Regions from separate parts of the Homo sapiens genome. Here region 2 is linked to region 1. The links come from fine-mapping of genetic effects on gene expression. A gene starts in region 1. The other region holds a variant in brackets. All regions are shown on one strand. Distances are from middle to middle.

The links. PIP is the estimated chance that this variant, and not a neighbour inherited with it, causes the effect. A credible set is the group of variants that fine-mapping cannot tell apart.
Region 2: its variant is the best candidate, but not a certain one, in a credible set for the expression of IL15 in tibial nerve (GTEx, PIP 0.51).

The regions. Positions count from the first base shown.
Region 1 is chr4:141,633,434-141,638,975 of GRCh38, reverse strand. IL15 (interleukin 15) reads right to left here and starts at 2,393. Exons shown (of 8, transcript NM_000585.5): 1 at 2,228-2,393. RefSeq lists an enhancer at 2,391-2,480.
Region 2 is chr4:141,723,918-141,728,917 of GRCh38, reverse strand. IL15 (interleukin 15) reads right to left here. Exons shown (of 8, transcript NM_000585.5): 6 at 934-978. Among named protein-coding and RNA genes, the nearest start is that of IL15, 90 kb to the right of the region's middle. The variant A/G (reference allele first, on the strand shown) is at 2,766.

The sequences.
Region 1 (5,542 bases):
CTAACCTTCAGAAAAATAGTTAACACAATGAGCAGAACTCAACATTAAACTCCAGGAGAGATGAGGGGAAAAGGACAGTAGTCTATATTTTCAAAAGATTTAAAACTCTTTTGGGTCAGAGACCCATTTAAAAAGCTGATCAAAGTTACGGATATTTTCCTGAGAAAAATCCACATGTACCCAGCATTTCAGGGCTGCTCTTCTAGCTGTCCTGAAATTCATCAGAGGCAGCAAATCTGAGATGGAGTATCCCGTAGGCTTTAAAACCTTCCACTTCCAAAATCTATTTCGATAAACCTTAAACCACTGTTTTCTCCATCCCCCAAGGAAATTTATAAACATTGTGCCTTGCAATATAGCTGTTGACATTGGCTACATTAATTTCATGGATTAAAACAAAAGAGCATCATTTTAATCACCAGTAGTCTGCAGGAAAATTCCAACCAGAACTATAGCTTCCAATCAGGTTCTGGAGTTGCCACTCCAAATCAGCAAGGAACAGTGAAACCAAAAGTATGGGAACACCCTGCCTATCAGAAGTTCCAGACCAATGGTCAACTGACCCTTCTCTGTCACTGTTGCAAAGCAGATGATACTGCAGGAGAGACTTTTCTGATTGACTAAAATTCTGTGAGAATTTTACACGAATAAGGACCCGAAACTAAGACAATCATAACAAACCTTAAGATCTCTATGATACTTGTTAACTTTAAGCAAAACTAGCTTTTTCTTCACTTTTTAAATCTAAATGGCTTTTGCTGTATTTTCAGTTCTTCTCTTTATATGTCTTTATGTTCCTTCCCATGTATTTCCTTGCTCTGTTGGCCACATTACTTCACACGAAAACAACAGGAGTTTAAAAATTTAACCTGTATTATATCTTTTTTATTCATTTATTTATTTTTTGACAGGCTGGAGTGCAGTGGCAGATCATATAGCTCACTATAAACTGGAACTCCTGGTCTCAAGCTATCCTCTCGCCTCGGCCTTCCAAAAGTGTATTGTATCTTGATGCTTTCAGTAGAATGGTTCACCTTATAACCTCTACATGGCAGGATGCATAATCACCAGTTTATTCTGTAATACCTGAGCAAAAATTCAGCCTAGCTAATATGGCCTCTTTCACCACACTGACAAGATAAGGATGACGTCCACTTAGTTGGCCACCACCAGTATCATAATATTAGATAGTAGTTTAAAAATATATAATGGAAACTAGCTGGTGACCACCACTTTACTTCCAGTTTTGAAATTGCTGACTCATCCTATTTAAGAATCTGTTGTAAGCATCATTTAAGAATTAGTTTGGTTTAGACATACTTTGAAGTCAACATAGTTTTTAATGCATGGAATTACATAAAGTCAAATGAACTATATACCCTTGCTACATGCGGTCTTAATAACACTTGAAAAAATTGGCTGGATTTTCATTTAAAAGCCACCTTGAATAATGATTTTATTTCAGTGAAATTCGCTCGTATTTTTTCCAAGTTCCTTCGACATTCTAGATACACTATCGCTTCTCTAAGAGATAACTGGCTGGCGCAGAGTTGGAACCAATACAGACCCAGGCCTGACTGCCAAGCACTGACCATTCCTGCAAATTTCTCTCCCAGAAGACGTGTGCAAGCAAAGAAGAGGGCGATAATTTGATTTTGCAAAGGTAGGGATAGACGCGCACGCACAGACATCTGCACCGGCCCACAATGAGTTTGGGACGGGAGCAGTTAGGAAGTGGGGAGCTGCGGTACCTTTTCTTGGCCTTCCTGAGCTTGACTGGGTGCAGAACTCAGCCCTCAGGGCTGCGGGACAGCGTCTTCTCAGAAACCCGCAGCTTGGCTGGGGCCGCCAGACGCGCGTCCCTCACCCTCCCAGCGGAGCGCGGGGTGCCCGGCCCGCCTTGCGCTAGCCAGCAGCCTGGAACGCCGTAAGAGCGCAGCGCAGTAGGGAGTCGCACGCCAGGGGCAAAGGGACCTGCGATCTGCGCTCCTCCGGAAGCGGGAGGATGGCTAGGAGAGCCTCAGAAGTGTCATTAAAGGAAAAACCAAAAATTGAAGTTGCGGCTAAGTTTTCCCCATGAGAAGGCGGGGCAGCTCGGCCAGTAGGATAGACCGGAGGGTAACGCTGGAGCTGGGAGGGGCCCTGGGCGTAGGCTTTCGGGGAAAATTCCATCGCCCTTTCAACCACCACCACTCCCCTCCCAAGGCAAAGAAGCCGAGCTCTGTACCTCCATCGAGTCCTGGCTGCAGGGTGGGGGGCGACAGCCACCGCAGCCGGGAGGGTGCGGCCACCCAGTTCCCTCCCGGGGGGCGCCGGACTTCGAAGGCAGTGAGCGAGTCAGCTGGGATTCCCCCGGGCGCCTGCCACCCGGAGTCCCAACCCCTGGCGAAAAGAAAAGTGAAAGAGAAAGAGCCGGGAGCATAGGCGAAGACAAACACCTCCCGCGGAGACTGGGGGTGGGGCGGGTGGCGGCGGCTCCTGGATGACTGACTGCCCCAGGTGTCACTGCTTCCCGGCCTGTTTCCGTCCCTGCCGGGGCCTGGGGCGCAGAACTTGCAGGGCAAGCGCAAGGACATCGAGGAGCCCCAGCCCCGCCCTGCAGGAACACCAGCCACCGGTCTCCTCCTCTACCTGCCGGGACACCTGCAGAGAAGGCACAAGGATAGCCGCATCCCAAGCGACGGGCACCATGTGGGAAGCTTCCGCAGCTGAACCTGGAGACCCGGGCTGGGCTGGCGCGCATCCAAGTCTTCCTGAGGAAAGGGAAAAGGATGTCGGATCTGGATGCTGGGCGGCTACTCTAGACCGGCCTCTTGGTCCCCGCACAGGCTGCAAGAAGGAAACTTTGAAGTCCAACTAGGGGAAATGTTGGAAGAAGACACCCGGGTGGCAGCTTTGTGCAAGACAGTTGGTACAGGGAGTGAACTTAGAGCAATGAGCCTCTCTGCGGATCACTTTTCCAGCCTATTGTGTAGTCCAGTGTAAAATATCACACATGGTCCCATTTGATGGAAGCGTGAGATGTTGTTCTTGTAGTATTTTTACATTGGAGGAAGGAACTGAGTTGAGGCTGAGTGATTTGCATGCCATAAAGGCAGTAGCAAAGATCTCACGCTTAGTTTTGAAAGTACTTTGCAGAATCTTGCACTCTTGTGAATCACTGAAAATCCCTCTTGTACGGTGCTTTCCAAATTTTCAGAGTCATGGTTCAGAGAAAATGATGTCTTCCTGGAGCGCAGTTTAATTTAGTTTAAAATTTAATTATGTTTTTAATTACATAAATATGATAAATATCAAATAGAAAAATAATAGAAATTATTCACTTTCCATGTACATAAAGTTCCGTATAATATAATTTCATATTTTTATGAAAAATTTGAGTTTATTTTCATTAACTCAATTTTTTGATATCAGTTTTATATTTGAAATAATTACTGATGGACTTTTTGATGAGAATTACATCAAACTCTAGATAGTCTCCATTAACAAAATAAGTGAGGTATAAAAATGCAAAAACAGTTTTTACAACCATTCAAAATTTCACCATAGTTGGAAATTATATTTAAGAATATGAAGCCATCATCCATTTCTGTTCATGACGATGTCATGTTGAATTTTCTTGTGATGGTGTCAATGGATTTCAAGACCAGTCAGAATTTTTCATAGCAATACATTGAAGCTCTGATTTGCAGAATGAGCATGCACTGGGAGAGCAAGACTGCAGCTGGTTTGGATCTCACCACAAGAATATAGCAGCCACGGAAGGACTGATATGCATATGTGTGAAGATAGAGAATAGGGATGAACAAGTGTATCATGTGTCCCAACCTCATTTTGGACTGTTGCAGAGCTTCCTGGACTCCTGCCATGTAAACTCCTCTAGCACCTCTTTCAGCTCCTTTAATGGATACTGTGTTCTCTGCAGCCGGTGAAGGAAGCAGGTGTCCACGCTCAGCACCACCTAGCAGAGCTCAATATCAGATATTGCTGCTGCCAGAGGACATATCATCACATCTCAGATCCTGTCTCTCTTGGACTGCCCACAAACTCTATAGAAAGTGCTCTCAGCTGGTGCTCACTAGCCTGTGGGCTTCAGCTTTGTTAGCTGTCTGCAGGACTCAGGGCCATCAGTATCTGACTGCATACTTTTAATATATTGAGACCACCAAGAACGTTCTGAGCTACTAGAGAGTTTTCACAACACTATGAAATTGACGGAAAGTTTACTTGTAGGGTGAACTTAAGGCATAATCTGAGTATATAACAGTAAGAAAATTGGTCTACAACTGTTTATTGGGTTTCAACTATAGTAGGTTCTAGAACAAGATGGACTAAATGATATATAAAGCATTTTGTCAGAGTAGGGAGATAAAAAACATAAATAACAGTAAAGTACAACTAAAAATTATTATAGTCATAAGATATGCTTTGCTCTACTATTTGCCTCCCAAATATGTTGGTCAAATTTGTTTTCATAAATACAGATGTTTTAAAAGTATTTTTAATTAGTTATGAGTGCCTGCAGTTCAATGAAGTTGGGTTTGCAACATAATTTGTTTTTGTTGCATTGCACTCAAAAAGAAAAGTCTAATGTATGCAACTTGTGTTTTCAGTTGCCACAGGCTGTTTGGCAAAATATTGAAAATTACTCATACCAATGAACAAGTAAATTCTGCTGCATAAATTAAAAGCAAAGATGAAGATTGATGAAATAATTTGAAACTGTCTTAAGATAACTAATAAAATTACAGGGTAGAAAGAAGTGGAGATTAACTAAATCTCATAGAAGTGACCATAATAATCTTCCTGAATTCAAATAATTAACAATAAAATTATAGTTTAATAAATTTTTAATATCTTTTTTCAAAAACAATGTCAATTGGGCAATCATCTTTAAAATAAATTACTAATAATTTATTTTCTAGCTTTTGTGATTACATGGAAGAAGTTACAAGTTATTTCATCTGATTTAGTGTTCAAAGTCCATGACTGTGGCCTTATTTATGGTTTTACTAAGATTTAAACCTCCCATCAAGAACAAGTTGATCCCCTGCTCTTTGGAAAACATGGCCTGCCTGGGTTCTCTACATTTCCATTCGGGGTAAAGCATGCTGAAATGCAGCATTACCTCGAAGTTGCTTCTCACATTTTTTTCTGGTGATCCTGACAATAGACAGATACTCTTGGCCTTAAATACTATTTAGGTTTTCAAGAGCTCCTCAAGTTGCTGCTTTTTCAGAACCACAACAGTATTAGTTAGGACTTCTGTAGTTCCTCCAATCTGCTATTTCTCCAGTGCTGTGCTAAACACAAATGTTAACTTATTAAATCCTCACAGCAAAGCTATGAGATATAAACTATTATTATCTCCATTTTACAAATGGGAAAACCAAGGCCCAAAGAATTATACAGCTTGCCTAAGATCACATGGAAATTGACTGACCCAGCAAGGATTTGAACTCAGACAGTCTGGCTTGAATACACATTCCTACTCTCTGGTGCCTTTAAATTGGCAGCCATTCTCCACTGTTTCTAAAACTGA
Region 2 (5,000 bases), 90 kb before region 1:
CATGGGTTGCAAAGTTATCTTCTTGCAAAAAAGCAATTTCAGGATGCTGAATTTGGTGGCTAATTGACTACTTTCCATTTTACAAAAAATGCAAAGAAAAACAGAATCCATGCTGAAGCCAGAGGAGGGAGACAATTTCTTTGTGCAGCAGCATGACCCAATTGGTTAGTGAATATCTCTTTTTTCTAGTTTCTGACTATGGTTTCTTTCCAATGCTTAGAAAGTCATCTATGTAAGAGAAGTTCTAATTGAGGAATAATGGAGAGAGGACATAGAGTTTGTTTTCCCTGACGTGAAGTTGGGGATTCATTTCTTGGTTTTAGTAACAATACTGAAGGGAAGAACCACCACCAACATGACAAATCCTACATTCCTTAGGAAATGTCAGGGTATTAATGAAACAAGTTCAAGACCATTTTTCAGTTCTAATAAGTTTCATGGGTTATGTTTCCTTTCTCACATAGAGAATAATTAGAATCTTTTTCTGACAAATGTAGAGAATCATGTAAAATGCAGAACATGAATGATTTTAAGCAATTTATGGAAAATATGATTGCAGATGGTGATACATTACAGCATTGGAAATAACTGATATATTGGCTACTCTTAAATTGAAACAGTTAATCTGATTTTTGCATCTAATTGCACCATGATGCAACTGCATCACAAAAACGTATAATGTATCTTGTTTGACATTGATGGAAAAGACTCTTTTAATATTTTGATTTGGCACCATTACAAAAATAGCATTGATGTAGCTATCTGTCCCCAAGTCCCATCTCAATAATCACTAATAAAACTCATTGACCATATATTATAGAAACACACCAAAAGTTAGATTTTAAAACTACCATATTTTAGTTGTTACAAAAATATACTTTTAAAAACTTTAATAACAAGACAAATAGCAATTTTGAAAAAAAGTATACTCACGTGAACATCACTTTCCGTATATAAAGTAGCATCAATATGCATAGACTGAAAGGAAACAAAATTAGACAATATTAAAAACTATGCCCTGCTTTAAATATTATGAGAACAACCTACTGAAAACATTAAATTGTTTTTAATTCTTTTTTTATTTTGAGATAATTTAAAATTCATATGAAACTGTAAGAGTAAATACAGAGAGATCCTGTGTACCCTTCAACAAGCTTCTCCCAGTGGTAATGTCTTCCATAACCACAGTACAGTATTACAATCAGAAAATTGACATTAATACAATGCACTCACCTTGTTCAGATTTCACAAGTTTTATGTGCCACAGTGTGTGTGCTTGCATATGTGTGAAGTTTTATGCAATTTTATCATTTGCATAGATTCACATCACCACCACCACAGTTAAGACACAAAATAGTTTCATCACCACAAGGATTCTGCTGCTATTCTTTCATAACCAAAGTCACCTTTCTCCCCATACATACCTCATCATCACCCAATCTCTCTAAATTCTGGCAACCACTTCTCTGCTCTCCATGCCTATAATTTTGTCATTTCAAGAATATTATGTAAACGGACTCATATCATATGTAACCTTCTGAAATTAGCTTTTAAAAGAATTGATAGACATTTTTATGAGCCATTTAGGTTTACAGAAAAACTAGCAGAAAGTACAGAGACTTATACACCCCTTTGTTCTCCACCCCAGTTTCCCTATTGTTAATATCTTGCATTAGTGTGGTGTGTTTGTTATAGTTGGTGAATCACTATTATGATCTTAAGTGTACAGAATATTAGGGCTCATTATTTGTGTTGTATGTTTTACAGGTTTTGACAAATGTATAATGCCACCCATCATCATATATTAATATTTTCACTGCTTTAAAAGTAGCCTGTGCTCTGCCTAGCCATTTCTCCTTCCCTCCAAACCCCTAGCAACCACTGATCTTTTTATTGTCTCCATAGCTTTGCCTTTTTCAAAATGTCATAGTTGGGATCATACAGTGTGAAGCCTTTTCAGATTGGCGTCCCCATCTTTCACTCAACAATATGACTTTGAAGGTTTCTCCATTTCTTTTCATGGCTTGATAGCTTATTTCTTTTTATCACTGGATAATATTCTATTTTATAAATGTACCACAGTTTCTTTATGAAGACTGGCTTTTTTCACTCATCATAATACCCTGGAGATCCACCTAACTTGTGGGTATCACTAGTTTGTTCCTTTTTATTGCTCTGTAGTATTCCCTGACATGATATATCACAGATTTTACCAACTGAAGCACATCTGTTTCCAGTTTTTGGCAGTCATGAAAAAATCTCTGTGAACATTCATGTACATATTTTTGTGTGCACGTAGTTTTCATTTATCAAGGATGAATGTCTAAGAGCACAATTGTTGGATTGTAAGGCAAATGCATGTTTTGTTTCATAGGATGCTGCCAAACTATTTTATACAGTGCCTGTATCATTTTACATCATCACCAGCAATGTATGAATGATCCAGTTTCTCCACATCCTTGCCAGCATTATCACCCTTGTTCATTTATATTTACTTAGCATCATCACTATTTTTTATTCTGTATACGCTTATAGCTGCATGTAATAATATGTCATTGTGGTTTTAATTTGCATTACTTTCTAAACAAAATATACCCATTTTTACTACTTTCTCTCCAAAAAACTTGGGGTGATGTATAATTTTCCTTTCCAATCTGTGTGCCTTTTATTTATTTTTTTCTCATACATTTTTTCTCTCCTGCTTCATAATTTGGCTAAACTTCCAATATTATTGCTGTGGTTTGAATGTCCCCTCCAAAATTCAG[A/G]TTGAAACTTAATCCCCAATGTGGCAGTATTGAGAGGTGGGGCTTTAAGAGGTAATTGGATCACAATGGCTCTGCCCTCATGAATGGATTAGAGTATCAATGTGTTATTACGGAAAGGGAACCGGTAGTTTTATAAGAAGAGGAAGAGAGACCTGAGCTAGCACATGAGTACATTCAGCCCCTCGCCATGTGATGCTTTTTGTCACCTCTGGACTCCAGAGAGCCCCCACCAGCAGGAAGGCCCTCACCAGATGTGGCTCCTCAACCTTGAACTTTTCAGTCTCATAACCATAAGACATAAATTCCTTTCTTTATAAATTATGCATTTCAAGTACTCTGTTATAAGCAACAGAAAACTCAGACAATTATGTTGAGTAAAAGTGGTGAGAGAAGATATCCCTGCTTAGTTTCCAGTCCTAGCAGAAAAACATTCAGTCTTGTACTCACCATTAAGTATGGTAGCTCTAGACTTTTTGAACATGTTTTGTACCAAGTTGAGGCAGTTCTCCACACCTACTTTCTAAGAAATTTTATCTTCAATAGGTGTTTATATCAGTCTGCTAGGGCTGCTATAAAAAGTACCACAGACTTGGTGACTTAAATAATAGAACTTTATTTTCTCACAATTCAGGAGGCTAGAGGTCTGAAATCAGGGTACCAGCAGTGTTGGTTTCTTTGGAGTCCTCCCTCCTTGGCTTATAGGTGGCCATTTTCTCCCAGTGTCTTCACATGGTTTTCTATCTCTGTGTATCTATACCCTTATCTGTTTTTCTAAAGATACCAGTCATATTGCAGTAGGACCTGCCCTCATGACCTCATTTTAACTGACCCTATCTCAAAATACAGTCACATTTTGATATACTGGCAATTAGTACTTCAACATATAAATCCAGGAGGCATAGGGAGGGACACAGGCCATGAGAGGTGTTGCATTTTATCAGATACCTTTTCTACATATGATTTTCTTCTTTAGCCTGTTGATAGGGTAGATTACATTGCTTGACTTTCAAATAATTGAGCAAGACTTGTGTACCTGAAATAAATCTCACTCGGTCATGGTGTATAATTCTTTTTATACATTGCTGAATTTGATTTGTTAATATTTTATAGAGCATTTTAATATCTAAGTTAATGGGAGATATTTTTGTAGTTGTCTTTTTTAGTAATATCTTTATTTGGTTTTAGCATCACAGTAATACTGGCCTCCTAAAATCAACTGGAAAATGTTCCTTCCTCTTCTATTTTCTAGAAGAGACTGTACAATTGTTGTTAATGCTTCTGTAAATATTTGATAGAATGATTCAGTGTAACCAGCAGGCTTGAAGGTCCCTTTTTGGGAGCTTGTGTATGATGAATTCAATGTATTTAGTGATTATATGAGTGTTTGGATTGTCTATTTCATCTTCATTATGTTTTGGTAGTTTGTGGTTTCTGAAGAATTGGTCCATTTCCTCTAAGTTATCAGATTTGTGAGCATAAAATTGTTCATAGTTTTTCTTATTATCCTTCTAATGACTGCAGATTCTGTAGTGACAGCCCCAAATTTCATTCCTGAGATTTGTGTCTTCTCTCTTATTTCTGTCAATTAAAGATCAATTGTATTGATTTTCCAAATAACCAGTTTTATGTTTCATTAATTTTTTCTATTGTTTTCTTGATTTCAACTTCATTAATTTTGGCTCTTATATTTAAATATTTTCTTTGTTCTGCTTGTATTGAATTTGTTTTGCTCTACTTCTTCTAGTTTCTTGAAGCAGTAACTTAGATTTTTGATTTGATAATTCTCCTTTTTTTCTAATGTATTCATTTGATTTTAAAAAATGTCCTGTCAGTATTGCTTTAGCCACATCACATATATCTTGATATGCTGTATTTCATTTTTTTTCATTCTATGTATTATGAATATCCTTTGAGATTTACTCTTTGACCCATGGATTATATAGAGGTATAGTATTTAATTTCCAAGCATTTGGAGATTTGCCCGTTGTATTTAATTTCTTGATTTCTGGTTTGATTCCATTGTGGTTTGAGAACAAATTCTGCATGATTTAAGTTCTGAAAAAATTTTTAAAGTTTCTTTTATGGCTCAGTATATATTTAGTCTTGATAAAAGAAAGTATATTCTGCTGTTGTTGGGTGTAGTGCTCTATGTATTAAATTAGATCCTGTTGGTTGGTTATATTGTATTTTTATGCCCTTTCTGATTTTCTGTCTAGTACTTCCATTAGTTACTGA